Homo sapiens: one gene and its partners. The protein of the gene in region 1 purifies or fractionates together with the protein of each later gene. This does not show direct contact. Each region holds a gene or a part of one and is shown in the gene's direction. Other genes may lie near its edges.

Region 1 (4,258 bases):
CTAGGGGATACACAGGGCTAGGGCTCATCCAGGGGATAGGGGATCTGAGAGGAGACTTACTAGCTGTGTGACACTGAGAAAGTGACCTAACCCCTCTGTGTCTGCATGCCCCCATCTGTGAAATGGGGGACCATAGCACCCACCTCACCGAGCTGTCATGAGGATAAAAGGAGTTAATAGTGCAGCATGGAGCTCAGTTCCTGGCCGGAGGATGTGGGATGCAGTGCTAGCTGTCTGTCACCTGCAGGGCTCCGCCCAGGGCACTGGGGATAATTCTCGTAATCAGGCAGCTGCACTCCCTGACCTCCTGCTCTGTGTTTGGTCCTGTGTGGGCACCGGGGACAGAGGGCAGATCAGAAATGTGAGCCCCATCTTAGCCATTTCAGGCTGCAATCATGAAGTAACATAGATTGGGTGGCTTATGAAAATCAGAAATTTATTTCTCTTGGTCCTAGAGGCTAGAAACCCGAGATCGGGGCACTGTGGCAGGTTCTGGTGAGGACTTTCTTCCGGATTGCAGACTGCTGACTTCTCGTTGTGTCCTCACATGGCAGAAAGAGAGGGAGCTAGCCCTCGCCCGCCCCTTCTCGAGAGCTTGTTTGGAGGTTCTAGCAGGGGAGCGCAGCTACTCACATACCCTTGACCAAAGTCCGGTCCTCCTCTATCGGGGGTGGTCGCCCCCTTCGATGGAGCTCACAGCTTCGGGAGGGACACACCTGGAGCAGTGAGGGAGGAAGGGGACACACATCTAGCCAGCCAGATCAGCTAAATCAACCCTGGTGATCAGTGGAGTGACAGATGTCCCCGCCAGATCGCCCTCACATCCAATTAGCCTTTCTTATAAGAAGACTGATCCTACCCTGGGGACTCTACCCCCATGATCTCATTACCTCCCCTCCTAATCCCATCACAGTTTTCAGCAGGTGGATTTTTGGGGAACACACACATTCTGCTCATAATGAGCTCTGTCCCCAGGGAGCCCAGAGGCCAGTCAAGGAAAGGGCCCAAAGGTCCCCTGCCTTCTGGGAGCCTAGGGGAGTCGAAACAGCTGCAAGCTCATCGCTTCACTGGTGGGCTGACTTCTTCATCTCCCAGATTAACTTAACTGTAAGATGGGGACAGTAATGCCTGCTCTCCTCATATCCCTGGACTTGTGATGAGCTCGTGCAGGGTGTTGCAAACTGTAAGGTGAGGCAGTTGGGGGAATGCATGGACACAAGGGTATGTGCTTACAGTGGGGAGACATGGGCTCTGGAGTCTGCAGCGCTTGAGTTCCCTCTGGCACTTACCAGCTGTGTGACCTTGGACAAGCTGCTTCTCTTTGGGAGCCTCAGTTTTCCCAGTTGTTCAATGCAGATGATGAAAGTACCTCCTTCTAGTTCTGAGAATTCAAAAATGTAATGCACCTGGCACTTAGAATGTGCTTAATAAATAGGAGCACATAATCAGGGGTCAGGCAAGGCCCTGCTCATGGTGACATTCTGGGGATCAGTCCCAATGACCCTGCTGTCTCTTGATAGCCCTAAAGCTGCCCCAGACGGTGGCCTGGCAGGTACCCCTGGGTCACCGCACTCAGCACAGCAGAGCTGTGTGGCAGCCCCTCAGCCCCTTCCACAGGAAGTGTGGGATCCAAGGAAAGAAATGCTCCCTCTTACTTGACCCCTGAACTCACAGACACTCAGCTCACCCTCAGGGCGGGTGATCAGAGCGAGAGGTGGGTTTCGGGGTGGAGGGAACAAGAGGAGAATGGGGCATGGAGGCAGAAGGAGTGACCTGGGATCTGTTCTGTCTGTGCCAGGGGTCCTGGAGGAAGCCGAGTTCTACAACATCGGCCCGCTGATCCGCATCATCAAAGACCGGATGGAAGAGAAGGACTACACGGTCACCCAGGTCGGGAGCAGGGGCAGCACACACGGCCAGGGCAGGGGCCAGTGGGGAGAGAGAGGCTGAGAGACGGGGCGGGAAGCAGAGGAGGTTGGGAGAGACAGGACCAGTGTTTGTCATGGGGAGGCCGAGCTGGCCTGTAAGGAGAGGCATGGTTGGGCTGACAGGCTGCCCAGCACAGCCCCAGACTCGGAGACGGACACTGGGGTTCAGTCCCTGTCTCAGCCCCATTTGCTGTGTGTTGGGCCAGGCTCGCCCTCTCCGGACCTTGATTTTCTCTTATGGGATAGAGAGGGGTGGGAATGGCACACCCATCCCTTCCTCATAGGCAGAAGGGGGTCAGTGTGGAGGTACAGGGTGCCCTGCAGAGGAAAATGCAGGATTAGCAAATTGTGCCTTTTGTGGCATCAGATGGTCGCCTGGTGGGCTCGGCACAGGCTGTTGGGGCTGGCGTTTGTGACCTTGGAGCCTGGGCCTCCCTGGCCAGTCTGCAGGAGGAGGGAAAGAGATTTTCCGCCTACTCTGGGGGATGTGTGAGGGTTGGGGGACAGGTAGTGAGGAACCATTTCTCAGGCCCAGGGGATTAAAGAGGGGAGGCTCCGTGTCTCCTTGAGGGCCTGACTCCTTGAGGGTGACCCAGAATGTTCCCTAAGCCCCACCCATGTTCTTTCTTGAATTACCCGTGTTCCGGTTCTGTCTCCTTCACCCTTGAGCTGGGTGACCTTGGGCAAGTAACTGGACCTCTCTGAGCCTCAATGGAAAGTCCCGTAATGCCTAGGATTCTTGGAAGGATTAAGTGAGATGGTGCCTGGTAAATGCCTGGTGAGGAGCAGGTGCTCAGAGCATGGCTGCCTCCCCCCAACCACCTCTTCTTTCTCTCCCTCTCTTCTTCTTTGGGTATGTTGCGGGGGTGGTGGCAGCAGGTGCTCATGCCCCTCCTGGGGTGCCTGGTGCTCCCACAGGTGCCCTCTATGTGACCCTTCTGCCCACAGGTCCCACCCAAGCACGTGTACCGCGTGCTGCAGTGCCAGGAGGAGGAGCTCACGCAAATGGTCTCCACCATGTCTGATGGCTGGCGCTTCGAGCAGGTGCGCTGGGGACAGGGGCGTGCCACCAGGACAACCCTGGGACCTCCTAGCCTCTGACCAAGCAGGCCCCTCCCTTCCTGCAGCCCCAGCCTTGGGTTCCCCACCACAGTCTCCCCCAACCCCAGGGTTCTTCTGAAATCAAATTAAACAAGGTTAGGAGAGACCACACTTGGTGGCAGGTTGACCGAGAGAGAGGATAGGAGCCCCAGTGGCCATAGGACAGCACGGGGTGTCCTTGTTGGTGGGAGTCCTCACAGCAACTGGGTGGTGATCTATCTGGTGGCATGAGTGAGTCTGTGGCCCCCGAAGGACAGCTCAGGTGCAAGGAGACCAGATCCACATAGGTGAGTGGAGTCCACATTGAGTCAGTACCTCTTAGAACTCAGAGTCAGCATCATGCGATCATAGCAGTTCCTGACACAGTTTTCAGGGTCTCCGCAGGGGACATGCCCAGTGGCCAGCATTGCAACATGCAGGGGAGCCCAAAGCAGTGCCTTCCCATGAGGTCTTTATGGTGAACGGTGGTTCCTCCCAGTCCAGATGCAGTTTACCCATCGGGAGATCCTTATCCCGAGGGACTTTATCCCTAGTCATGCAGCTGACCTCCCACCTTTCAGGTTTCCAGAGGAGCAGAGCCAGAAAGTGAGCCCAGGGTCAAAAGTGCCTTTAGAGAAGGAGAGGGGGTTGGCTAGCCTTTCTCCACGCCCACCCACACGTTCCCTGGCACATGGAGACTGCAAGGCAGAAGGTCGGAGCCCCCAGGATGGCCTGGAGGGATGGAAGAATGGGCCTAGTGCAGAGCCAGAGGCCTGGCTTCACCTCTAGGCCTTGCCACAGACATGCCTGCCACCTTGGGCAAGTTACATCTCCTGTGCGGGACCCAGTTCCCTCATCGGTGAAGTGGGCTAACAGTACCTCCTCTGTAGGACTCTTGTGAGATTAGAAGGGCCATCAGTAAAGCTTACAGCCCTCCGTAGGACTCCCTATGTTGGCATTAGTGTCATGCAAATCATTAGAAATCCATATTGAAGTCTGCAACACTCAGAGAGGACTTGGGATCCCCGATGCCATTCCCTGCTCCACCCCTTCCTAGCTGTGAGGCCTTCAGCAGGCCTGAGATTCTCTTCAGGGTCCCTGAGAGCTGAATGAGACTCATCACCTGGAAGAACTTTCTTATTTCTTAGCCAGAAGGGCTCTGTGGGCGTGGTTATTCTAGGGACCCTGGAACAAGGGCAGGGCCACTCTGAGAGCCTCTGGGTGTCTTTGGCAATTGCACAGGCTCTCAG
Region 2 (4,684 bases), on another chromosome or scaffold:
AGCAGTGGCCATGGCACAGAGAAGCACCTATTAGATGCCTAGCGCTGGGCTGGGTGCAGTGAACTGGCAGACAAACTCACAACTCAGCCCCAGCCCTCCAGATGCACAGGATCTCTTTAGAGAAACTAAGCGTCAAGCAGTGTGGCATCGTCAACAACTCGCTTGCTTGGGTATGCTTTTGACAGATGCCTGTTGCCTTGCAGGGCCCCCCATGGGTACTTCAGGCCTCTCAAATTACAAAGCTGCTTCACAAAACCTTCTTCGAAACCTGAATAAAGCCCAGGACTCTCCCCACCAACCTTCATCAGCATTAGTATTGACGGGACACTCTAAGGAGTCAAGCAGCCAAATCACCTTTCCCTCCCCTCTCCTCACAGATGCTCTCCAGGGCTACACTTGGACTCCACAAAACACCAAAGAGCTGGAAGCACAGAAGCAGCTTCATAAGCAACAAGGCAGGTTGAAAAGACCGAGACCCAGGGAACACCGAGTCCAGATGATGTAGCCTATAAAATACAAGCCCCCGCAAAAGCTACTATTCTCCAGAGCGTCACCAAGCACGGAGACCCCGAAAGAAAGCAACCCTCACCTTTGTTGGCCCTTACCACTGGCCTAAACCTCTCCCTCTTCCCTGGAGAGCCACTGTGGAAAGACCAAGTCTTAAGTATGTGGGATTCAGAAGGTGCAAAGCTACAGACTGCTCAGACAAGGCAAAGAAAGCTGCCTCAGCAGCACCCAAGCTGCAGAGATGCACAAACACTCCCAAGGCCACAAGGTACCTGTGACACAGGGTGCCAGCCCTGCTGCTGCCTGTAGCATCCTCAAAACTAAATCGCAGCCATCTCCCTGTGACAGATTAGAAAATGAAGGCCTCGGCCTGGCCCAAGGTCACAGCCTGAGTGACAAGCCAGGGAAGGGGGCCGGGGAAGACACTCTGGCCCCAAGGCCCTTCTTTTTGTCGACTTTTCCACATACAAGTAAGTCCTTAAGGCACCGGTTCCTGAAAAGTCCCAGACACCAACCCTCGGCCTAGTTCTGCCGGTGGACAGATCTCAACGATCATACTCGCTCTGACAGGACAGACCAACCGAGCACTTGTCACGGGAGAACACCAAAGCAGACGGCCTGCCCACCAAGGGAGGCAGGCACCTCCGTGCGACGCCCCCTCCCCTCCCGCCGGCCGCAGGGAACGCGACGGTCCTCGGTCGCCTGCGTTTCGCGAAGACGCCCCCGCCCGGCTCCTCCGGGCCTCGAGCCGCGGGAGGCGCTGGACCCTCCGCTCTTTCGCCTCCCGAGCGGGGCCTGCTCCTCCAGGTCGGATGCGTCTCCCACCAGGGCCTGACGCCGCTCCGACCGGCCCGGGGACTCCCAGTCCTTCCCGGCCCGCGGTGGCACCTCCCAGGCTCCCGGCCTCGGCCCCGGGCTCCCAAATGCAGCCACTGCCTCCCTCGGCCAGGCCGCCCCGAGCGACCGGTGCCCCGCCCCTTGAGGCCAGGCAGGGCCAGGGGCGTGCGCCGCCCCGCTCAGACACCCCCCCGGCCGCCCGCGCTCACCGGTCCCGCAACCGCAGCCACCGCCTCCAGCCCCGCCTAGACCGTCCGCCGCTCCCCGCCCGGCGCCGCGGCGCCCCGCGATGACGTTGACGCCTCCCATTGGCTGCTTGTCCGAGGCCCGACGGACTGGCTGCCCAGGGGCGGTGGCCCCGCCCCCGGCCCGCCGCGCATCCGCATTGGCTGTCGGCCCCCGCGACGGCTGCGCGGGAGATTCGCTGGACGATCGCAAGCGCGGAGGCCGGGCGGGCGCGCGCGCCATGGAGCGGCTGCGGGACGTGCGGGAGCGGCTGCAGGCGTGGGAGCGCGCGTTCCGACGGCAGCGCGGGCGGCGACCGAGCCAGGTGCGGGCTGCCCAGGGGCCGAGGGGCTGAGGGCGCGGCCCGCGGCTGACGCGTTCCCTTTACAGGACGACGTGGAGGCGGCGCCGGAGGAGACCCGCGGTGAGCGCGCGGCGGGGCGGCGGGGGCGAGAAGACACCGGGTCGGCAGGGGCCCAGGCCCCACCCTGACCCCGCCTCCCGCTCGCCCACGCAGCGCTCTACCGGGAATACCGCACTCTGAAGCGTACCACGGGCCAGGCCGGCGGCGGGCTCCGCAGCTCCGAGTCGCTCCCCGCGGCGGCCGAAGAGGTACCCAGGCCCCGCCGCCCCAGCCTCCTCCCACTTCCCTGTTTGGCGGAGTGGCGGGAGCCACGGAGTCGCGGCCAGGCCGCCGTGGGGCACAGAACTTGGGAGGGGGACTGGGCAAAGTGAAGAAGGGCCGGGCCTCGCTCCAGGTGCGGGAGGGGTGGCTGGGAGCGCTTCTGCCGCCACAACAGCCTTTTCTGGCCTGTGCCCCTGTTGTCTCCTGCAGGCGCCAGAGCCCCGCTGCTGGGGGCCCCATCTGAATCGGGCTGCGACCAAGAGTCCACAGTCTACGCCAGGGCGGAGCCGCCAGGGCTCGGTGCCGGACTACGGGCAGCGGCTCAAGGCCAATCTGAAAGGCACCCTGCAGGTGAGGAGTGGGCAGGCAGTGAGTCCACGCTAGGTCCACAGCTGCTTCCGGTCCGGGTCGCCCTCTTGTCATTTTTTCCACACAGACAGGCACGGGCCCCTGTGCCAACCAGGGCACGAGTCTTCAGGGAGCTTCTCGGGGCCTTCGCCCTTGACTCCCTTTCTAGTCCAGCCTTGTGCTAATTAGCCTGCTCTACAATTGAGCGTGGGGACTCAGGTAGGTTTTAGAGTCTACAGTAGCTCAGGGGCCTGAGTTCCTCCTGCTGTTCTGTTGTTCCCCTCCCAGGCCGGACCAGCCCTGGGCCGCAGACCGTGGCCTCTAGGAAGAGCCTCATCTAAGGCATCCACCCCAAAGCCCCCAGGTACAGGGCCTGTCCCCTCCTTTGCAGAAAAAGTCAGTGATGAGCCTCCACAGCTCCCTGAGCCCCAGCCAAGGCCAGGCCGGCTCCAGCATCTGCAGGCATCCCTGAGCCAGCGGCTGGGCTCCCTAGATCCTGGCTGGTTACAGCGATGTCACAGTGAGGTCCCAGATTTTCTGGGGGCCCCCAAAGCCTGCAGGCCTGATCTAGGCTCAGAGGAATCACAACTTCTGATCCCTGGTGAGTCGGCTGTCCTTGGTCCTGGTGCTGGCTCCCAGGGCCCAGAGGCTTCAGCCTTCCAAGAAGTCAGCATCCGTGTGGGGAGCCCCCAGCCCAGCAGCAGTGGAGGCGAGAAGCGGAGATGGAACGAGGAGCCCTGGGAGAGCCCCGCACAGGTCCAGCAGGAGAGCAGCCAAGCTGGACCCCCATCGGAGGGGGCTGGGGCTGTAGCAGTTGAGGAAGACCCTCCAGGGGAACCTGTACAGGCACAGCCACCTCAGCCCTGCAGCAGCCCATCGAACCCCAGGTACCACGGACTCAGCCCCTCCAGTCAAGCTAGGGCTGGGAAGGCTGAGGGCACAGCCCCCCTGCACATCTTCCCTCGGCTGGCCCGCCATGACAGGGGCAATTACGTACGGCTCAACATGAAGCAGAAACACTACGTGCGGGGCCGGGCACTCCGTAGCAGGCTCCTCCGCAAGCAGGTAAGACAGCGACGGGCCAGGACAGGCATTCCCTTTCCCTCCCCTCAGCCCTCCCGTATTTCCCGCCCAGTGACCCTCCTATGTGGGCACCCCCCAGGCATGGAAGCAGAAGTGGCGGAAGAAAGGGGAGTGTTTTGGGGGTGGTGGTGCCACAGTCACAACCAAGGAGTCTTGTTTCCTGAACGAGCAGTTCGATCACTGGGCAGCCCAGTGTCCCCGGCCAGGTGAGACATCTGCCCTGGAGGGTGGGTCCGGCCAACACTGTGGAGAGGGCGCAGTGCTCTTTTGGGGGACACTTATGTTCCAAGCAACAGGCCTTCCAGGTACCCCTGGTCCAGGCCCTACCCTAGCTCCCCTGAAGGAGGGTGGCAGGGACGACGATGGCTGTCACTCTTTTCTGCTTTGGAAAAAGTAGCCCAGAGGAAGGGCACTGCCTGCTGCCAACCCCCTTTGGGGGAAGGAGAGGTTGTGGCCAGTGGTTGTCTTGCCCGACCTGGAGCTCCCATTCTACCCTCTCCTGCCTGCCCCAGCAAGTGAGGAAGACACAGATGCTGTTGGGCCTGAGCCACTGGTTCCTTCACCACAACCTGTACCTGAGGTGCCCAGCCTGGACCCCACCGTGCTGCCACTCTACTCCCTGGGGCCCTCAGGGCAGTTGGCAGGTGAGCAGTCAGCTTCTGGCCCAGAGCCTTCACTGAGGGGTTGGGGTGACTCAAGTCATGGTGATCAACATCTGTGTCTGCAGAGACGCCGGCTGAGGTGTTCCAGGCCCTGGAGCAGCTGGGGCACCAAGCCTTTCGCCCTGGGCAGGAGCGTGCAGTCATGCGGATCCTGTCTGGTGAGCGTGGCTGCCAGGGCTGAGGCTGGGCTGAGGCCAGGCTGCAGAACCCTGCTGCTGACTCCCGCCCCATCCAGGCATCTCCACGCTGCTGGTGCTGCCTACAGGTGCCGGCAAGTCCCTGTGCTACCAGCTCCCAGCGCTGCTCTACAGCCGGCGCAGCCCCTGCCTCACGTTGGTCGTCTCTCCCCTGCTGTCACTCATGGATGACCAGGTGTGCACACAGGGCCCTGGGCACA
Region 3 (4,258 bases), on another chromosome or scaffold:
TTGCGCCACTGCACTCCAGTGTGGGTGGCAGAGCAAGACTCCCTCTCTAAAAAAAAAGCAGTGTTCATTTCAAAGGTTTTGATGATTTCAGCTTTGCTTTCCTCCCCTCATGCCACCTAGGCATCTCCAAGTGTATTTTCTTACAGTAGTAGGACAGTATTTGGGTGATTGGTGCCAGAATACTGAGTGCTTCTTAGGGCACTAGAAAATGGAGTATGGTGGATATGTGTATTGGCTTTTTTGGGGAGGGGGGGCGGACAGAATTTGGCTCTTGTCGCCCAGGCTGGAGTACAATGGTACAATCTCGGCTGACTGCAACCTCCGCCTCCCGGGTTCAAGTGATTCTCCTCCCTCAGCCTCCCAAGTAACTGGGATTACAGGCACCTGCCACCACGCCTGGCTAATTTTTGTATTTTTAGTAGAAACAGGGTTTCACCATGTTGGCCAGGCTGGTCTCAAACTCCTGACCTCAGGTGAGCCACCCAGCTCGGCCTCCTAAAGTGCTGGGATTACAGGCATGAGCTACTGCGTCTGGCCTTACTGGCTTTTAATCTTATTTGCATTTAACTTAGCTCAGAGTTTCACAACCTTGCACTTCTGACAGTTTGCCCTGGCTAATTCTTAGTCCTGTGTATTGGAGGATGTTTTCCAGCATCCCTGGCCTCTACCAGCCAGATGGCAACCTTACTTGCTCAGTTGTGGCAGTCACAAATGTGGCAATCAAATATTGCCAAATATCCCCTGAGTCTCAGAGGCTACGGTTATATTCTGAACCAGCAGTGACTACCCCACAGCCTAGTGCAGCCTGGGCATGTTAACAAGCCCAACAAAAGGGGTGTGGGAATGATTGGAAGGATGTCCTTCCCACTGACAAAGTATTCAGCACATTTTTGAGTTGGCTTGGCAATTAGGTTAGAGGATTCAACATGCTCAATAAAGATACTGAAGAATTAACTAAGGGCCCAGAAGAAACATTGCCCCAGGACAAATTACAGGTTGTAGCCATAAAACCTTATGTATGTGGCGAGTGACTTAAGGGATAGCCAGGTTTAAATCTTGACTGTGCCTAACTTCTATCAGGAGCTAACTTGTCAATGAAACCCTTGAATAAGATGTAACTCCATGTCCTTTGGGGTTTCCATTGTCTGGTGGCTTAAAGCAAGTCAGGGATGGGCCTTGAGAATCTTTCTGCTGTGGTTATGGTCAACCTGGGCTGCTCTGGAACCTCAGCTGTCAGAGTGAGAGAGGATTCCTGCAGTTCAGCTAAAGAGAATGTCTGTGAGAGGTACAGTGGAGGAAGAGAGAGATACAGTTACATAAGGGAGGGAGGATAGGCCATCAAACCATCCCGACCCATCTGTTAGATTTATAGATGGCCTCTGAAAAATATGAGTATGTTATGGATTGGGTTTTGAGAGACTGTCTCTGTTGTTGCAGAGAACAATAGGAGTAGCATTTATTTCATGAGGATCGTAGGAATATTTGGGTGCAGATGGCAGTGCTCCTATGAGTGACATATTTATACTGTTCTTTCTTTCTGGAACAGATCTTTTGATTGATTGGTTTTGTGCCCCTACCTCTTCCAGAAAGAATTTGCAACAGATTGACAAGGATACATAACCATATGAAACAAGATGAAAATAAAGACATCCATGTAAAAGGAAAATGAAGGTAGAATAGCAAGTGGTCTGGGGAAAGGTTTTATACAGAAATCTGTACTATTTCAATCTTCAGAGTTAGGGAAGTTGGCTCTGAAAGCAGAATGGGAAACACAGTACCTTAGAAGATCTCATACTTTCCAAAAAAACAAAAAACCATTCTAGTTGATTAAAAGAAGTAGAACTTTTCCTCACATTGATGTCTGAAGGGAATTTCTCCAGGAAGCTTTAGTAGATGGTGGACAATTAAGCTGAAGATGATTCTAAAACACAGTTCAGTTAGAGCAGCTTCCTAAGGCTTGGGGCAAAACCAATTGATCTTAAATTCAGAGCTGATGGTGGTTTGGGTCTTGAAAAATTCTCGTGTCAGACTCCGCTAGAGAGCATCTTTTCAATGATGTGTTTTCACTTAAGAGTTTAGTAAGTGAAGGGCATTTTGGATTGCGCTGTTGTGACCTCCAGCTTACCTTCCACTAGGGATGCAGCTTATGGGTAGAATATGAATCTTCAGATGGCAAAACAGCTTTTATAGCTAATAACCTCAGAACAGAAGCAAAGAGAGCACACTTAGACTCTTCGCTGTGCTTTCACTGGCACATCAGTAATTTCCATCCTTCTACAAAGGGGATGCTAATTTTTCTCTTAAAAAGTCCTTGCTTTATAAATGAAAAACAGTGACCAGTGACAAATTCAGGAATTAAGTAGGTTAATTTGATAGGGCAGCTTCTCAGGTGCTGACCCTTTAAAAAAAAATTCACCCTTTTTTTCCCGCTACAGGTGATTGATTATGTACTCCAGATTTCTGGGACAAATGAAATTTCCTGTAGCCTCATTTTGTCTCCATAAACCATCAGGATTCCTGGAAATTTAAATATTTTGATATCTAAATAACTTCAAACAATTTTGAGCCTGGAATCTTATCGGATTGTATACTCTAGTTCTTTATTTGGCAGAGAGCCAGCTGTGATCACTGCAGAGCAGTAACCCCTCCGCCCTGCTGGCTGTTTGCTTTTGCAAATCAGGAGAGAGAAAACGACCATTTTGCGGTTGCCCTTACGGTGGGGAGACAGGCTAGCTCATCAACAATAACAGTATATTTTTTGGTAATGTGGCAGGAAAGGAAGGCATTGAAGGCACTTACGTGGGTTAGAAGCTCTGCTAAGGCACTGCCCCCTGCCCTCCTCTTAGAAGGGCCCAGTTCAACACCTCATCTCCACCTGGAAGAGGCGGGGACTGTGCCCCATATCTGGCAGGTGGCCCTGGAAGCATCGGAGTTCTTCACTGCAGGAAGCTCTCCTTCCAGACCCACCCCAGGCTCTTGCTGACCAGCTTGGCTGGATTCTCCTCTCTGGGGAAGTACAAGGGCCAGCAACATCTCGATAACCATCGAGAACGCCCTCTGAAGTCGGGATAGTCAGCTTGTCTCTTTCCCTCCTTGGCTTCTTAAAACCCACAGCTTACTGAATGAAAATCCTTGCTGGAGTAATCAGGCTCATGTCTTTTTCTGGGTAATACTGATCTTAAAAAGACAGACATAGGCCGGGCGCAGCGGCTCACGCCTGTAATCCCAGCACTTTGGGAGGCCGAGGCGGGTGGATCACAAGGTCAGGAGATTGAGACCATCCTGGCTAACACAGTGAAACCCCGCCTCTACTGAGAATACAAAAAATGAGCTGGGCATGGTGGCGGGCACCTGTAGTCCCAGCTACTCGGGAGGCTAAGGCAGGAGAATGGTGTGAACCCAGGAGGCGGAGCTTGCAGTGAGCCGAGATCGCGCCACTGCACTCCAGCCTGGGTGACAGAGCAAGACTCCATCTCAAAAAAAAAAAAAAAAGAAAAGAAAAAGAGGCAGACATAATCCTTATTTAAAGGAGTTTGATGTCAGGGAGCATAGTCCAAGATCGGGGTGCTGGCTTGTACCTGGGTGTGGTGTGTGTTCCCCAGATATCCTCTCTGGGGCATAGGCTCACCTTACCGGGGGCTGAGGCCTGTGCATCCATAACTGAGCCACCTTTACAAATGAGCTCCCGTGTGGTCATCGCCTCTACGTGCTGCTCAGTGCTTCTGGCTCTAACCTCCCTTCCAGCCCCTCCTCCCTGCCTGCCCTCACTTACTCAAATGCTCTGTATTCCTAGACATATCTTGGCTGATGCTGTTCCCTCCAGATTCTCACTTTCCGCCTGTTGAAATCCTACCCTTTATTCCCCACCAGCCCAGCTCCTCCAAGATGACATACTCCATATGGCAGCGTTTTTCAAACTTGAGTCATTCACATTCATTGTCTTTCCCGTTCTCAAGTCCTGCTTGTATAATTTTTGACTTTTTTTATTTAAAGAATCTTTTTTTTTTTTTTTTTTTTGAGACGGAGTCTCGCCCTGTCACCCAGGCTGGAGTGCAATGGGGCGATTTCGGCTCACTGCAACCTCTGCCTCATGGGTTCAAGCGATTCTCCTGCCTCAGCCTCCCAAGTAGCTGGGATTATAGGCACACACCACCATGCCCGGCTAATTTTTTGTATCTTTAGTAGAGATGGGGTTTCACCATGTTGGCCAGACTGGTTTCGAACTCCTGACTTCGTGATCTGCCCGCCTCGGCCTCCC
Region 4 (4,258 bases), on another chromosome or scaffold:
ATACAGATTGTATAAATGTTTTTGTGGTTTTTTTTTTGAGACAGAGTATCATTCTGTCACCCAGGCTGGAGTGCAGTGGTGCCATCTTGGCTTACTGCAACCTCTGCCTCCCAGCTTCGAATGAGTCTCCTGACTCAGTCTCCCAAGTAGCTGGGAATACAGGCATGTGCCATCATGCCTGGCTATTTTATTTTTTTGTGTTTTTAGTAGTGATGGGGTTTCATCATGTCAGCCAGACTAGTCTTGAACTCCTGACCTCAAGTAATCCGCCCACTTCGGCCTCCAAAAATGCTGGGATTACAGGCATATCGCAAGGTCAGGAGTTCGAGACCAGCCTGGCCAACATGGTGAAACCCCATCTCTACTAAAAAATACAAAAAAATTAGCCAGGCATGTTGGCGCAGGCCTGTAATCCCAGCTACTTAGGAGGCTGAGTCAGGAGAATTGCTTGAACCCGGGAGGCAGAGGTTGCAGTGAGCCGAGATCACACCACTGCACTCCAGTCTGGGTGACAGAGCAAGACTCTGTCTCAAAACAAAAAAAAGGGGGCAAAAAGTGGCTAAATTTCAAGCTCTTGATGGACTATGGAAAGATTATAATGGCCTCCACCAAATCCAAACATGGTAATTGCTCCAATAGCAAAAGTAGTTAAACATCTCTTAGAGCTTATGGTTTGCTTTACTCTGTGTATTTCACTTGTCAACAGTGTAAAAGCTGACAGCTTAATGGTGAAACTATCTTTAATATTGGCAGGGAACAAACTCTCCTAAATAACCTCTCCTTCCCAATTTAAATGCCAGAAGATTGGGAGTGCCTAGAAGTTGTGAGTGGCTTATCAAAAACTGTCAATATGTCCTTGGCTATGACATTTTTGTTTTATATCCATTTTCAGCATTGTCAGAGAACATTGTCCTTTAGGATTTCAGAGTTTCACCAAAACTTAAGTGGAGTTCAGCTAAACAGCTAAGAACAGTAAATGGTTTTAGGGTGGTTGACACGCACACTTCTTGAATTTCTACAGGGCCAGCCTTCTAGCCTTTAACAATTCAGGAAATCATAAACCATCACTTGTTCCTGCCAACTTCCTAATTCCTCTGGTACCATGCAGACAAAGAAACACTCTCTTCCAATCGCAAATAAAATCTTTTTTCTCTTTTTTTAGGTGGACTCTTGCTCTTGTCACCCAGGCTGGAGTGCAGTGGGGTGATCTTGGCTCATTGCAGCCTCAGCCTCCCGGGTTCAAGCGAGTTGCCTGCTCAGCCTCCCAAGTAACAGATTACAGGCACCTGCCACCACATCTGACTAATTTTTGTATTTTAGTAGAGACAGGGTTTCACCATGTTGGCCAGGCTGGTCTCAAACTCCTGACCTCAGGTGATCCACCCATCTCGGGCTCCCATAGTGCTGGGATTACAGGCGTGAGCCACCATGCCCTGCCAGTAAAGTCTTTTTTTTTTTTTGAGAGGGAGTCTCTCTCTGTCGCCCAGGCTGGAGTGCGGTGGAGCAATCTTGGCTCACTGCAGCCTCAGCCTCTAGAGTTCAAGCGATTCTCCTGCTTCAGCTTCCCAAGTAACTGAGATTACAGGCACCTGCCACGTCTGGCTAATTTTTGTATTTTAGTAGAGATCAGATTTCACCATGTTAGTCAGGCTGGTCTCAAACTCCTGACCTCAGGTGATCCTCTCGCCTCAGCCTTGCAAAGTGCTGAGGTACATACAGGCTTTAGCCGCCGCCGCTGGCCTTACTTTATGCCCTTTTTACCACCATGAGGAGAGTAAAGAATTTCTGTCTTGGAGGCTTGATTTGAAGTTAGTGGTTGGGTTAGAAGGGATAGGATACTAAGGTGTACACTGCTCCTATGAAATAAGAGTTGTGGAGTAAAATCATGTGTGACTTCCTCAAGGAAAAGCACTTGAGGCTGGGTACAATGGCTCACACCTATATTCTCAGCACTTTGGGAGGCCAAGGCAGGCGGATCACCTGAGGTCAGGAGTTTGAGACCAGCCTGGCCAACATGGTGAAACCCTGTCTCTGCTAAAAATACAAAAATTAGCCGGGTGTGGTGGCAGGCACCTGTAATCCCAGCTACTCAGGAGGCTGAGGCAGGAGAATTGCTTGAACCCGGGGGACAGAGGTTGCAATGAGTCAAGATCACACCATTGCATTCCAGCCTGGGGGACAAGAGTGAAACTCCATCTCAAAAAAAAAAAAAAGGCCAGGAGCAGTAGCTCACGCCTGTAATCCCAGCACTTTGGGAGGCCGAGGTGGGCGGATCACAAGCTCAAGAGATGGAGACCATCCTAACCAACGTGGTGAAACCCCGTCTCTACTAAAAATACAAAAATTAGCTAGTCATGGTGGCACACTCCTGTAGTCCCAGCTACTCGGAAGGCTGAGGCAGGAGAATTGCTGGAACCCAGGAGGCGCGGGTTGCAGTGAGCTGAGATCACGCCACTGTACTCCATCCTGGAGACAGAGTGAGACTCTGTCTCAAAAAAAAAAAAAAGAAAAAAGAAAAGCACTTAAACCCTAGATAATCATGAGCTGTGTAGTTCCTTTTGCTTCAGACTAGAACATTTTTAAAATGGTCATCGCTCACCTATATGATTTTATCATGTGCACAAATGATTTAGACATAACTTTACAGCTGCTTACCTGACTTTTTCTCCCCCTTAACGGCTCAGGGAGATCCAGAGGATACAGTATTGGAGCATTTTTGCTTGGGACTTTTATAGTAGGGACAGCTTCATCAGTCTGTGATTCTGATTGCTTTGTTCTTCCCAGCAGAGCCCTACCTGTAACCTGCAGTAATCTGTTAACTCCAGTAGTAGGGATTATTGTTGATATATATATATATTTTTTTGAGATGGAGTTTCGCTCTTGTTGCCCTGGTTGGAGTGCAATGGCGCGATCTCGGCTCACTGTAACCTCTGCCTCTGGGGTTTGAGTGATTCTCCTGCCTCTGCCTCCTGAGTAGGTGGGATTACAGGCACCCGCCAACACGCCCGGCTAATTTTTGTATTTTTAGTAGAGACGGGGTTTCGCCATGTTGGCCAGGCTAGTCTCAAACTCCTGATCTCAGGTGATCTGCCCACTTCAGCCTCCCAAAGTGCTGGTATTACAGGCGTGAGCCGCCACGCCCGGCCTGTGGATGTTTTTTTGATCTGTGTTCTGTTGTGTACAGTGTAAGCCATTTGTAGGCTGATTTCTTTCCTAGTTCTTCCTCTTAGTGAAAAGTAAAGCAGTTTAGATCATGTTGAATGATAAACTGAAATTTAGAAATGCAAACATAGAATACAATGTCAGAATATCACCAGGTGCCATTTTGGTTGATATTTTATAAATAGGGAGATATTTTTCTGTTTACTCTCCATAGGGATTTTGACACTTTCCACCCACCCCTTTTTCCTTTTGTCACCTTGGTATATTCTGCCAGAAAACTGACATCAGAATGTCATTGCTTCTGATCGATTTATTTCTGCCATGACACTCAAGCCCATTGTCAGTTATAATTAACTAGTCTAATAGGTATCCAGTTTCTGATATTAATTGATAATGTGTACTTACACGTTAGCGTTGAATATCAAAATAGTACGTTTTGCTTATTAATGTCTGTGGGCTTTTTTAGGTTAATTTAAAACTCTTCTGATTAATACCTTTGCTCAAATATGTGCTACCTAATAGCTATTAAATATTTTATTAGCCTGTTTTTCTTGGATAATAAAGTGGAAACTATAGCCTGTGAAGTGAACAACAGAGATAATACCAGGCCAGCTAGCAAACTGGGGAGAGGGAAGGTGGTAATTTTATCCTTTAAATTGTTCTCTCCTAGAATGTTATTTATTATTTTTTTGAGACAGAGTCTTGCTCTGTCGCCCAGGCTACAGACCAGTGTAGTGCAGTGGTGCGATCTTGGCTCACTGCAGCCCTTGCCTCCCAGGTTCAAGCGATTCTCCTGCCTCAGCCTCCTAGGTCACTAGGATCACAGGCGTGCGCCACCACGCCCAGATAATTTTTGTATTTTTAGTAGAGGCGGGGTTTCCCCATGTTGGCCAGGCTGGCCTTGAACTCCTGGCCTCAAGCGATCCTCCTGCCTTGGCTTCCCAAAGTTCTGAGATTACAGGCGTGAGCTACTGCCCGGCCTCTCTCCTAGAATTTTGGAGCATTCTTACTTGACGTAAAGAAGGGAACAAGAGCCGGGCATGGTGACTCACGCCTGTAATGCCAGCACTTTGGGAGGCCAAGGCAGGTGGATCAC
Region 5 (4,258 bases), on another chromosome or scaffold:
GGAATGGTTATTGTGGCTAAATATGAATTGTTGCTCCTATGTAAAATTTAGTTATTGGTAGAAGTTTACTAACTGAGTTGAATTTTGTTGTTTTCCTGGGTTATTGCATGTTATGAAGTTTTTTATGTACTATAATCCAGATTTGTTAAATTTGCCAGTTTACTAGAATAAGCTGTGAAGCCTTGAAGTTTGGCTTAGCATTCTGAAAATCCTTTTTATTGTTTGCCAGGAAAGCACTGTAGGAAGGAGGTGTTATCTCTTCATTTAATATTTAATGAGTAGTATAGATGATGAGATAGGATATAATGTAGAAATACCGTAGAATCTTCTTTATTGATATGAAAGTACCATTGTCTAGGAACAGCATAATTTCTTATCTTTTGCATGAATGGGGAAAAAGAGGAGGGGAAATTTATTAGACTCTTTCATTTCATTAGAGATATCTTCCCTCACATTCATTCTTCATTTCATTATTCTTAAGTAGAAACTTTGGAAGAGAGATGCAAGTATTTGAATTAATTAGTAAGAACAAAATGAAAATTACATCGTATAGACTATCATGAGGAAAATATCAATTTGGGTTGGTTATTGTGTTTGTATTTTTTAACAAGGAGGTTATATAGAGTAGTAGAAAGAAAAAAGGACCCAGAGGGGAAGAGTGTTAATATTTATTGTCTGTTAAGTGTCAGATCCTGTATAAGGGGCTTTTCATGTTGTCCCACTCACCAAGTATGCTTTATGAGGTAGGTATTATTAATCCCCTGTCCTCTCCCTGCCAAATAGAAGCTAAGGGAAATGAAATAACTTGTCTAGGCTCATACTTCTAGTAAGTGGAATTCTCTAAAACTTATTCTTTAGATCGGTTCTGTCCAATTAAACTTTCTGCAATGATGGAAATATTCTTTTTTCCTTCAACTTTATTGAAGTATAATTGACAAATATCATAGAAATATTTTTTGCACTGTTAGTTATGGTAGCCATTAATCATGTGTGGCTATGGAGCACTTAAAATGTGACGAGTGTGTCTGAGAAACTCAATTTAAAATTGTATTTAATTTAAATCAATTTAAATTTATAGCCAGATGTGGCTAGTAGCTATAGTATTGGAGAGCATAGCTTTAGGTCTGACTGCTTAGAAAATCTGAGTTGTAGTATTTAATCTTCCACTGGTTTATGCATGGCATTGGGCAAGTTGTTTAGTTCTGGGCTTCAGTCTAATCTGGTGTGAAAATGAAGGGGTCGCCACTAAGAGATTATCTCCAAGGTTCCTTCTTGCCTGAAGTTCTGTGACTGTTATTAAAACATACAGTAGCATTCAATATTCACAAGCATTATGTCTGAAAGGATCCCCTCCCCAATATGCTCACCCATTACCTAAAGATTTCTGTTTAGTCAGTTTCTCTTTTTGAGAAGCGTATGTATAAAGCACACATAAAGGATAGTGGATTATTCCCCACCTCCCCAACTGTTCGGCAAAAACATTGTGTAACTCAAGGCAGTACTTTATGATGGAACAAAGTTTGAATCTTTAAAGGCCATATTTTAACATGCCACCTTCCCGTTTAAAAATATATAGGAGTTCCCCGGTGCTTATCAAATTAATCCCAAATTTACCTGCTTGACCTTGAAGACTTTCTACCAACTTCATCTCATTAACCTTGTTTCTCATTCGTGCTTAAAAAGAAAATAGTCTTGTTTTTTCCTTTGTCCTCGTTTCCATAATTTAAACATCTCTGTCTCCAATTCATGTGCCTCCTCTTTAAACCTTTTTCAAAATTCACCTGTTTCTGGAAGAATGCTGCTTAATCCACTCACAAGGATCAGTTAATGAATCCTGGTAATAAGTACCCTAAGGTTAATATATGCTTGTTTAGATATAGTTTAATATCTTCTTAAGCTTTTTTTTTTTCTTAAGTTTTTATGTTACCTACTCTGTTTCCTTAATTTTCTTAGGTTAAAAAAATTAAAATAGGAATAGCGTCTTTTGTATTGTCTTATGAATTTAGTTCATTTTTCAACAATGCTACTTTTAAAAGTTGCTAATTTTTAAAAAGGATAAATACTGTAACAACGTTTACCCTTGATCACCACCATAATAGCTATTTTTTGTTTCTTTCCAGGTAATTGTTCATATTTAAAAAATAAAGTTGTGTGGTAGAGAGAATTTTGAGAGGAATATAATGGGAACATTGTATGGTGGAGGCTGTGCAATGTAGGGGAAAGATCACAGACTTTGGAGTCAAATCTGGTGTGGAATCTAGCGTCAAAAACCTCGGGCAAACTGTCTGATTTCTGAGTCAGGAGTCAAATCTGGTGTGGAATCTAGCGTCAAAAGCCTTGGGCAAAGTGTCTCATTTCTGAGTCAGGTGGTCTTGAATTGTGGGGATTAAGATACTATATGTAAGGCATCTAGCGCTGTGCTTTAAATACAAGAGATGATCAGTCAGTGATAGTTGGTATTATTTTTTCATTTTTCTATTCCCATCTTCATGAATATTATTTATTTATTTTAGCTACCCAAAGCCACCAAGGTCAATGAATATAATTTAAGTGATTAGTTAAACATTCAGGTGATATACCATAACTGATTTAGACATTTACATTTTGTTAAGCGGTTTTTTGTTTATTTCCTCAGTTTAAAACCCTAGGACTGGGATAATGGTCAAGTGTCATGAATATTTCTGTGCCAGATCTCTCTCTTACAGAAGTACCTACAGTGGTTGTTCTTGTTTTGGGAAGAAAAAAATGCTAATTTTATAATTGTATTTCATTGTTTTAATTAATGTAATTTGAAAATTTATTTGGTGATGATGTAATGAACATTCCTTTATATGTTAAGCAAACATTTGAAATGCCCATTGTAGTGGGAGCAGTGGTATAAAGGTAAATAAGACATGATTCTTGTCCTTGAGCTCAAATTCTAGGGTGGTAACACATGTCAACAAACAATTAACAATTCATAGTGACAGTGTAATAAGATCTGGGGAAAAGAAGTGGCATTTGAATATGGTCTTGGAGGATCATTTGGAATTGATCTGGGTAGAGAGAACAGCATATAGAAAAAGTCAAAGTATGAAAGAATGTGTGGTGTGTTTGGAGAAATGTAAGTTGTCTTGTTGGATATGTCTGTCTCTGTCTGGGTGGGTGTGGTTGTCTGTTCCTGTGTGTGAATCTGTGTGTGTGTGTGTGTGTGCGCGCGCGCATGTGCGTTGATTGCAGTGGGAAATGAAGTCTTGTGAGGGTCCTTGTGTTTGGGCAATGAGTGGGATCATTTTAAGACCTTTAAAATAGAGCTTCCCAACTGGTGTGCCATGAATGGTTTACCAGTGTTTCGGAGAGCAAGATACCCTTGTTTAATGGGACCTGGGCATATCAGATCCCCCTCCCCACCCTGCCCCAGGATGGTTTCTTTTGGCTTTGAATAGCATTTGTGGCTTATCCCAACGTGCTAAGAAATTATTATTTTCTTTGTTGCCAAGTTGGGAAAAGGATTGGGAAAACCACTGTTTTAGAGACTGTAAGTATTAGAAAGTTTATGGTTCCTACTCACCCTTGGCATCCACTATGGAATCAGAAATAAATATCAAATCCTAAAGTAAGCTTAAGGTAAACTTAAGAATTCTTAAGTCACCTTCCTCTTTCTCTCTCTTTTTCCCTCCCTTTACCCGCTGCCTCCCCCATTTCACTGGTGTATGCGCATGTGCGCGCGTGTGTGTGTGTGTGTGTGTGTGTGTGTGTGTGTCTGTGTGTGTGTGTGTGTGTGTGTGTGAAATATCTCTTTGGTGCCCTTGCGTTACTGGTGCCCTAAACATGCATTTAGTCTGCCTCTTGGGAAATCAGCATTAACATTCAGGAACAATTTAGAGGTATTTAAATAAGGGATGATAAGATTAGATGCAGGTTTTGAAAGGTAACTCCTGACTTCTAGATAATGATGCAAAGTTACAAGGATAATGCAAGGATGAGGTTAGAAATGGAGCAGAGAGACCAGATGCTGTTGCAGTGGTCCAGGGGAGGGATGATAGGAACCAGAAATAGGGCAATATAGATATGAGATTAGAACTGAAAACTGAGTAGTTTCACTAGACCTGAGAGTCCATTTGGACATGGGGGGAAAGAGTTGAAGATGATGCTAGGATTTCTTCTTTGGCAGCTTCCCTTCTTTAGCAAGGGAAGGCCAGATTATTTTTATTGAGCACTTCCAGTGAGCCAGGTATTTTGCTAGACAGCGAAGTTGTCACGAGTTCTCATTTAACAT
Region 6 (4,258 bases), on another chromosome or scaffold:
CATTGTCAATTATTAACCCCAGACTTTATTTGGAGTTTACTTATTTTTCCATTAATGTCGTCTCTGCCTTCCAGAATTCAGTCCAGGGGACTACATTGCATTTAGCTGTCATGTCTCTCCAGTTTCCTGGTCTGTGATAGTTTCTTAGTTTTTCCTTCTTTTTCATGACCTTGACAGTGTTGGGTAGTACTATACAGGTATTCTGCAGAATGTCGCCCAATTTGGGTTTGTCTGATGATTTTCTCATGATTAGATCAGGGTTATGGATTTTTAGAAAGAGTATCACAAAGAGGAAGTGTCCTTCTCATAACATCCTATCATGGGGTGTATAATAGCCACATGATGTCATGGTTGATATTAACCTTCATCACTTGGTTAGTGTTTGCTAGGCTTCTCCACTGTGAAGTTAGTGTTTTTCCCTTTGGAAGTAAGTCAGTAAATCTAACTACCCTCAGATGAGAGAGAGCAGGAATTAACTTCCTCCTCCAGGGGATACTAAAATATACATAACATAAAATTTACATTTTAACCATTTTTAAGTGTACAGTTCATATTGTTTTATAACCATCACCACCACCCATCTCTAGAACTGTTTCATTGTCTCCACTGAAACCCTGCACTCATAAAACACTAAGTGTAAAGGGAATTCTTACATTAAATTGTTTGGCATAGCATCTGGCAATGCAGAAGGCACACAATAAGTGTGAACTATTCATAAGTCGTTTTCAGTGAGACACTTTTAGAAAGATTTTTTTCCTTCCTTTGTAGGTAATTAATCAACCTCCAAAAGAGATTCAGTAAAAATAAAAGTGATCATTTAACCTTTCCCTCTTGTAATGGTCTTTTATAAAAATTCAGTTGGGGGGCCAGGCACGGTGGCTCATTCCTGTAATCCCAGCTCTTTGGGAGGCCAAGGCAGGGGGATCACCTGAGGTCAGGAGTTTGAGACCAGCCTGGCCAACATGGTGAAACCCCATCACTACTAAAAATGGTGGCGGGCACCTGTAATCCCAGCTACTCTGGAGGCTGAGGCTGGAGAATCACTTGAACCTGGGAGGCAGAGGCTGCAGTGAGCCAAGATCCCGCCACTGCACTCCAGCCTGGGCATCAGAGTGAGACTCTGTCTAAAACAACAAAAAAAAAAACAAACAAAAAAATTCAGTTGGGAAGGGGAATAAAAATTACTGGCTAAAATGGGATTTTAGGTCAGGCATAGTGGCTCATGCCTGTAATCCCAGCACATTGGGAAGCTGAGGCCAGAGGATTGCTTGAGCCCAGGAGTTCAAGACCAGCCTGGACAACATAGCAAAATCACGTCTCTACAAAGAAAATGTAAAAATTAGCTGGGCATGGTGGCACGAGTGTGTAGTCCCAGCTACTTGGGAGGCTGAGGTAGGAGGATAGCATGAGCCTGGGAGGTCAAAGCTGCAGTGAGCCACGATCATGCCACTGTACTCCAGCCTGGGCAATAGAATGGGACCCCCATCTCAAAAACAAAATAAAATGGGATTTTAGCTTATGTTTGGAAAGGGAAGTAAACGTTTTTGGCTAAAATGGTATTTTAATTATTCTTTTTTTTTCTGAGACAGAGTCTTGCCCTGTCACACAGGCTGGAGTGCAATGGTGTGATCTCGGCTCAATGCAACCTCCATCTCCTGGCTTCAATCTATTCTCCTGCCTCAGCCTCCCCAGCCGCTGGGATTACAGGTGCCTGCCATCACGCTCAGCTAATTTTTGTATTTTTATTAGAGACAGGGTTTCACCATGTTGGCCAGGCTGGTCTTGAACTCCTGACCTCGTGATCCGCCCGCCCAAAATGCTGGGATTACAGGCGTGAGCCACTGCAGCCGGCCTCTTATTCTTTATGATATGTTTATCACCATGTTTTATAAATAATTGGTTATAATTCCATATTCTTATGTCCGTAAACCTTTCTGAATTTTTCTAACATGTAAATGACTTTTTTCTAGAAGTTAGGAAGTCATACAGAATAATGTATTCTGGTTGGGTGCAGTAGCTCATGCCTATAATCCCAACACTTTGGGAGGCCAGGATCGCTTGTGGCCAGGAATTTGAGACTAGCCTGGGTAACATAGTGAGACTCTGATTCTACAAAAAAATAAAAAATTAGCTGGTGTACTGGCACGCACTTGTAATCTTAGCTACTCAGGAGGCTGAGGCAAGAGGATTGCTTGAACCCAGAAGTTGAAGGCTGCAGTGAGCTACAGCTGTGCCAGCGCACTCCAGCATGGACAACAGAGAGAGACCCTGTCTCATAAATAAATAAATAACATATTGTATATGTTATAGGGTAGAACTGTTACCATTAAGTTGAAGAATGTGAATTTTGAAGTAAAAACTCGTGCATCTACAGTTTCATCTGTTGTTTCTACTGCAGAAGAAATATTTGCCATTGCTAAGGAATTGCTAAAAACAGAAATTGATGCTGATTTTCCACATCCCTTGAGATTAAGGCTTATGGGTATGACTTTTTCATTTTTTTGTTTTTCCTTAAATCTGCTAGATTTTCCCAAATAATCAACTTTGGGAATACAGGGGGCCCCCAACTTAACAATGGTTCAACTTAATGATTTTTCAACTTTGCGACAGTGGGAAAGCTGTATGCTTTCAGTACACTCTTGACTTACAAGGTGGTTACATCCCGATAAACCCATCATAAATTGAAAGTATTGTAAATTGACTTATTATGTTTTCAATTTACAGCGGGTTTATCTGGATACAATCCTACTGTAACTCAATGAGCACCTGTATTCTCGCCTTCATTTTATTTCTTAAACCTGTTTACGAAGTTCTTCCTTTGCTGCTGCCATTTGTCTTAGTTATTAGACCCTGATGTGTGAAGCCATGATCATTAGTTTAATTCCAGTAAGGGTCAATTAAAGTTGTTATTTTCCTTATAACTTAATGAAATTCTTGTGGCCAGGTGTGTTTCAAAATTCAAAACTTTTCAGATTTTAGAAAGCAAATTCAGTGCATGTAGAGTATATTACGTTGTAATACTTCTTTGTGGATCTGGGGCAACACCCCCTGTTCAAACACATTAATATTTCTGTAGCAAAACAAAATATTCAGAGACTGTAAAGACTGATGACATTAATTTAGTCATCAGGTATCACTTGTTGCTTACAATTTTCAGAACTTTTTGGATTTTGGAATTACAGATAAAGGATTGTGACATTGTGAAATCACATCTCCAGCCACTACATGGTAAAAAGTAACAAGCCATGTTTCCAAAGTGTACTGGTTGAAAGTATATATGTGGATCACCACTCCAAATGCACATTTTACTAGTAAGGAGTGGGTCACTAGCCATAATTTTATTTATGAAAGATATAGCACACACTGAAATCAACTGAATAAAGTGTTAATTGAAAGAGCCAGGCTGGGCGCGGTGGCTCACGCCTGTAATCTCAACACTTTGGGAGGCCAAGGCAGGTGGATTGCCTGAGGTCAGGAGTTCAAGACCAGCCTGGCCAACATAGTGAAACTGCATCTCTACAAAAACTACAAAAAATTAGCTGGACATGGTGGCGGGCACCTGTAATCCCAGCTACTTGAGAGGCTGAGGCAGGAGAATCGCTTGAACCCGGGAAGTTGCAGTGAGCTGAGATCACGCTGTTGCACTCCAGCCTGGGCAACAAGAGTGAAACTCCACCTCAGAAAAAAAAAAAAAAAAAAAAAAAAAGCCCAAGAGCAGATATCTATAGAAGCTTAATTCATAATTGCCAAAACTTTGAAGCAAGCACGATGTCCTTCGGTACGTGAATGGATAAATAAACTGTGGTACATACAGACAGTGGAATAATATTCAGCACAGAAAATAAATGAATTATCAATTCATGAAAAGACACGAATGAAACTTAACTGCATAATGTTAAGTAAAAGAAGCCAGTCTGAAAAAGCTAAATACTGTGTGATTCCAACCATATGAGATTCTGGAAAAGGCAAATATGAGTACCATAAAAAATAATTGATTGTCAGGAGTTAAGAGGGGCAGGAGGTATAAATAGGCAAAACACAGGAATTTTAGGGCAATGAAATGATTCCGTATGATTCTATAATGACACGTCATTATAAATTTGTCCAGCGCCCAGGATGTATTCCAAGGGTGAACCCTATGTAAGCTATGGACTTTGAGTGACAATGTTGTGGCAGTGTAGGTTTATAGATTGTAACAAATGTACCACTCTAGTGCCACATGTTGATAGTTGGGGTGGTGGAGGGGTGTGCATGTGTA
Region 7 (4,258 bases), on another chromosome or scaffold:
AGATTCATTCTTAGCCCTTTGTAATGAATAACACAATTACTCTTTCTTGCTGCTTCCATTGTTAAATATGCAAGTGGATTCACTTGGAAAATTTGAGAGCTGCTTTCTACTGGTCATGGTGGTGGCCATAGTGTTTAGGTTATTCTCCAATTAAGATTTTTTTTGCTGCAGAGGGTGGTAATACCTTATTAGATCCAATTAAAGTATTTATTGAAGGCTTATCATGTGTGTTCTCTCATGCTGTTAGCTGAAGAAGACACAAAAATCTGTAAGGTTACCCCTTTCCTCTGTGAGTTTGTAGAGTCAATTCTTAAACACATTGTATTTAAAATCCATAAAAAACAGTATAAAAAACTATGCCAAAATTTTTAATGTCCTGTGAGTCCTTTAGTGGCACTTGGTTGTACTAAATGCATATAGTGAAAGGGATTTGATAGATTATTTGGAAAGGAATACATGCAACCATTTTCTATCTGTGTTTCTTTATTCTTTTCATAAAACTTTATTTATGGAATGGGAAGTTGCAATTCCTAACCTCAGTCTTTTCCTTTGAAGCTTAAACATACTTCCTCTTAAAGAAGCAACAGGGAATGTATTCTTTAAATAAATGATTTTTAGAACTTTTACATTCTTTTCCTGGCTGTCACTTTATTCTGTACTAGGTTAAAAATTCCTAGCACCTTTAGTTTTTTGTTATAGATCTTATTTATCATCTTTGTATGTGTAATATTGTCCTCAGTGACTACTTCAGTTCTTTTTATAGATGTTTTACATAGATATTTCCATAAGATGTCTTAAATCTGGACTTAGAAAAACATCAGAATAATAGTTGATCTTTCCTGTGTAGCATATACCTTGTACTTGTACATATACCTTGATTTTTAAAAATGGTCAGACTGTATTGCCAGCCATCAGTTAGTATGACTTTCCTATCTTTCACAGACAGTTATTTCTTATTAGATAGATTGTTATGTTTCATAGGGTCATGAAATATTAGAATGGGATTAATAATAGCAAATTAAAATCCAACTTTGAGATATGGCATGGGAGAATGTTATGGACCATGCTAATTCGAGATGGAATTATGCCTTCATTTTCAGGAATTTTTCAAAATGAAAGGATTGAATTAAAGTAAATTTGTCTTAGATGAATCAAAACAAGAGAGGGTGACATGTCATTTTTTTCTACTAATTCAGAACATTTATGGAGCCCCTAATATGTGTCAGGGACAATGCAAATATAACAAATACAACAAATACATAAAATGAGGAGCTGATGAAGTAAGGAGCTGCTGGTCGGTGGGACGTGTACAGCCCATTAAGGAAGCTCTCAGGCTGTTCCCAACTCTGTGCTTTGATGATCTTTCTAAGGTTGCTGCAGCCTCATTAAGGAAGTCACAACCTTTCTCTGTTTCTTATGTCCTTTGGATTGGTATTTTTTTTTCCCCTCAAATACTATTGTGTTACAATGGATTGTTATTCTTGAAACAGCATATCTGAAAAAGATTTTTCTAACTCACAGTAAGAAGGATATTGCAGAGTTAATATTGAGGTACATTGTGCTATATTTTGTGTTTTCTCAAATCATATGGAGCTTTACAGGATTAGAATTCAAATAATCAGCAAGGGCACCAGAGCTTCTTCAAACCTTACATGATAGTTGTTGAAAATGGATCTTCTTGTATTCTCTCCCTTTTTGGGGGCTCCGAGTCATAGTTAGGGCATTCATGGATATATGAAGTTTTTTTGTTCAGGATGGTTTTCAGGGAATAGTTCTGTTGAGATCCAACTTTTTGTCTTTGCGGAGGCTTCCTTTATAACAGTTTTGTCAGTGCTTCTTAAACTTTAATATGCATATGAATCACTTGGGAGATCTTGTTAGCATCAAGATTCTGATTCAGTAGGTATTCTATGGGAAATTACCTTGATACAATGGTTGAGCTACAAGTACACCAGCAGGCAAGCTATCTCAGAGGTTATGGAATAGAAGACTCAGAAAACAAATTAAAATGCTTGAATCACATGATTTACCAAACCAGTTAAACACAAATCCAGAAGCAAGAGGAAAGCTATGGAGTAAGTTAACACACTTCAGGTTCAAACCAGGTTGGAAGGACCACGCTACCTGTCCTGGATAAACAATGTTCCTATGTCCCATCTTTCTTTCACATAACCCTTCCCCATTAATGATGTGGTTATGAGGACCAGAGCTGATGTTTGAGCCAAGACTCCATAGACTAATGATTTCCTGGGTCGATGATACACACTTGTTCTGTTGAAGAGATGTGACAAATACACTTAGGTACAGCCGTAGCTTTGCTAGTTTGCCTGCTGATGAGCCATGGGACCATCCTTGGTGTCTTCAGTAGATGACTGATATGGAAGTAATGTAGCTATCAGTCCAGGCATAATGGTGACTTGGTATTTCCACTGCTTTTTGTCTATAAGTAAATCTCATTCATTTTATCATAATTTCTATTTATTTTATTGTTGTCATGTCTTACTCCCAGCTTACCTATTTATTACGCATCTGCTGACTGCCTTCATTTCACCAGCTTGCATTCTCATTATCAATACTTGGCCCAGCCTGAGTGTTGCCTCTGTCTCATAAGTTGTTAGTTTATTTACCATCTATGATTATCACTTCTTAAGTGTTTCATCCATCCCATTAGTTTTGTTTACCTCTATAATAGAATTTCATATTCTGAAATAATACAGGAAAACCACGTTAACAGTATGTCTGGAGGGGAACCTTAGATTTTACATTTCTAACAAGCTCTCAAGTGGTGCCGATGCCGCTGATCAAGAGATCACTCTTTGGAATATGAATTTGAAGTACAATCTTCTGGCTTCTGAAAGTGGCTGGCCATAGCATGTTAGGGAAGCAACATGTAATAAATTTCCTTTCCAGATGGGCTGCTATATCTGGTTGGGTGGAATAATATTCTCTGAAGATGAAATAAGGTATAATCTTGTAAAGTGCATGAATACTCTGTTTCTGGATCCCAAAGTGGATTATTATCCTTAACTCAAGGCATTTGGGTCATTAAAAAGTCACATCCTAGGCTCTTTGTGTGGTTTAAGTTTTTAGTTATAAAAAGTTGGGAGGAAGAAGTTTTTAATGGAATCAGAAATTTCATTTCTTTCATTCTTTTGCAAGTGTAAATTAATAAACTTAGTATAAGAATGGTCATATGATTTAACTTGCTTTTCTTGGATAACTTTGATGGTACAACTTTTTTTTTGTTTGTTTTTTGTTTTTTGTTTTTTGAGAGGGAGCTTTGCTCTGTCACCCAGGTTGGAGTGCAGTGGCACGATCTCAGCTCACTGAAACCTCCACCTCCTGGGTTCAAGAGATTCTCAGGCCTCAGCCCTCTGAGTAGCTGGGACAACAGGCATGCACAACTATTCCAGACTAATTTTTATATTTTTAGTAGAGACAGGGTTTTTACCATGTTGGCCAGGCTAGTCTCGAACTCCTGACCTCAAGTGATCTGACCGCGTTGGCCTCCCAAAGTGCTGAGATTATAGGCGTGAACCACTGTGCCCAGCCGATGGTATAACATTTAAATTGGATTTCCTTTTAAATTTTTATGTTTTATGACCTATGCTTCATAACCAGGTAAATGAAATATGTCAAATATTTTAATATACTTTGTAAAATCAAATAATGAAGATTTGTTGAATGAACCCCTTTTCTAAAATCCAGAGGTATAGCTATACTTTTAAACTGAACAGTGATCATTTAGTGTTTAAAAAGGGATTCTTTTGACAGCAGATTATTTCAGATGTTTACTGGTATTTATTTGTAATAGAAATATTTAAAGTTTCTTGTTTTTTGTTAATTTAATTAATTTTTTTTGAGACAAGGTCTTGCTCTGTCACCCTGGCTGTAGTGCAGTGATGCAGTCATGGCTCACTGCAGCCCTGACCTCTGGGGCACAAGTAATTCTCCTGCCTCAGCCTCCCATGCAGCTAGGACTACAGGCAAGCGCCACCATGCCTGTTATTATTTTTTTTTTTTTTGTAGAGATGAAGTCTCACTATGTTGTCTAGGCTTGTCTTGAACTCCTGGGTTCAAGCGACCCTCCTGCCTTGGCCTCCCGAAGTGCTGAGATTAAAGGCATGAGCCACTGTGCCCAGCAGTTGCTTGCTTTTTGGATCATACATACTTTGTGTTCCCTCTAAACTTTCTCACAAATGACACTAATTGTTGGGTTCATGTACTTGAAAGATAAGATGCCAAATTTGGAGGAAAA

What was found.
Region 2: the proteins of KCTD17 (region 1) and RECQL4 purify together in Homo sapiens (affinity purification with mass spectrometry; 3 studies listed by BioGRID and IntAct, with this or other methods). This does not show direct contact.
Region 3: the proteins of KCTD17 (region 1) and ZMYND8 purify together in Homo sapiens (affinity purification with mass spectrometry; 3 studies listed by BioGRID and IntAct, with this or other methods). This does not show direct contact.
Region 4: the proteins of KCTD17 (region 1) and PIP5K1A purify together in Homo sapiens (affinity purification with mass spectrometry; 4 studies listed by BioGRID and IntAct, with this or other methods). This does not show direct contact.
Region 5: the proteins of KCTD17 (region 1) and PTPN4 purify together in Homo sapiens (affinity purification with mass spectrometry; 3 studies listed by BioGRID and IntAct, with this or other methods). This does not show direct contact.
Region 6: the proteins of KCTD17 (region 1) and POLK purify together in Homo sapiens (affinity purification with mass spectrometry; 4 studies listed by BioGRID and IntAct, with this or other methods). This does not show direct contact.
Region 7: the proteins of KCTD17 (region 1) and PPP1R9A purify together in Homo sapiens (affinity purification with mass spectrometry; 3 studies listed by BioGRID and IntAct, with this or other methods). This does not show direct contact.

The regions. Positions count from the first base shown.
Region 1 is NC_000022.11:37,054,522-37,058,779, forward strand, and holds part of KCTD17 (BTB/POZ domain-containing protein KCTD17), read left to right. Parts: intron 1-1,798; coding exon 1,799-1,890; intron 1,891-2,876; coding exon 2,877-2,972; intron 2,973-4,258. UniProt on the Homo sapiens protein: Substrate-adapter for CUL3-RING ubiquitin ligase complexes which mediates the ubiquitination and subsequent proteasomal degradation of TCHP, a protein involved in ciliogenesis down-regulation.
Region 2 is NC_000008.11:144,514,911-144,519,594, reverse strand, and holds the start of RECQL4 (ATP-dependent DNA helicase Q4), read left to right. Parts: upstream 1-1,761; 5' UTR 1,762-1,810; coding exon 1,811-1,894; exon of another isoform or gene 1,895-1,959; coding exon 1,960-1,993; intron 1,994-2,086; coding exon 2,087-2,181; intron 2,182-2,404; coding exon 2,405-2,545; intron 2,546-2,830; coding exon 2,831-3,607; intron 3,608-3,704; coding exon 3,705-3,831; intron 3,832-4,137; coding exon 4,138-4,269; intron 4,270-4,352; coding exon 4,353-4,445; intron 4,446-4,522; coding exon 4,523-4,659; intron 4,660-4,684. UniProt on the Homo sapiens protein: An ATP-dependent DNA helicase which unwinds dsDNA with a 3'-overhang in a 3'-5' direction. Does not unwind more than 18 bp of dsDNA. May modulate chromosome segregation. The N-terminal domain (residues 1-54) binds DNA Y-shaped DNA better than ss- or dsDNA.
Region 3 is NC_000020.11:47,241,054-47,245,311, reverse strand, and holds part of ZMYND8 (MYND-type zinc finger-containing chromatin reader ZMYND8), read left to right. Parts: intron 1-4,258. UniProt on the Homo sapiens protein: Chromatin reader that recognizes dual histone modifications such as histone H3.1 dimethylated at 'Lys-36' and histone H4 acetylated at 'Lys-16' (H3.1K36me2-H4K16ac) and histone H3 methylated at 'Lys-4' and histone H4 acetylated at 'Lys-14' (H3K4me1-H3K14ac).
Region 4 is NC_000001.11:151,201,331-151,205,588, forward strand, and holds part of PIP5K1A (phosphatidylinositol 4-phosphate 5-kinase type-1 alpha), read left to right. Parts: intron 1-2,475; exon of another isoform or gene 2,476-4,258. UniProt on the Homo sapiens protein: Catalyzes the phosphorylation of phosphatidylinositol 4-phosphate (PtdIns(4)P/PI4P) to form phosphatidylinositol 4,5-bisphosphate (PtdIns(4,5)P2/PIP2), a lipid second messenger that regulates several cellular processes such as signal transduction, vesicle trafficking, actin cytoskeleton dynamics, cell adhesion, and cell motility.
Region 5 is NC_000002.12:119,762,742-119,766,999, forward strand, and holds part of PTPN4 (tyrosine-protein phosphatase non-receptor type 4), read left to right. Parts: intron 1-4,258. UniProt on the Homo sapiens protein: Phosphatase that plays a role in immunity, learning, synaptic plasticity or cell homeostasis. Regulates neuronal cell homeostasis by protecting neurons against apoptosis.
Region 6 is NC_000005.10:75,591,568-75,595,825, forward strand, and holds part of POLK (DNA polymerase kappa), read left to right. Parts: intron 1-2,310; coding exon 2,311-2,482; intron 2,483-4,258. UniProt on the Homo sapiens protein: DNA polymerase specifically involved in DNA repair. Plays an important role in translesion synthesis, where the normal high-fidelity DNA polymerases cannot proceed and DNA synthesis stalls.
Region 7 is NC_000007.14:94,913,564-94,917,821, forward strand, and holds part of PPP1R9A (neurabin-1), read left to right. Parts: intron 1-4,258. UniProt on the Homo sapiens protein: Binds to actin filaments (F-actin) and shows cross-linking activity. Binds along the sides of the F-actin. May be involved in neurite formation. Inhibits protein phosphatase 1-alpha activity.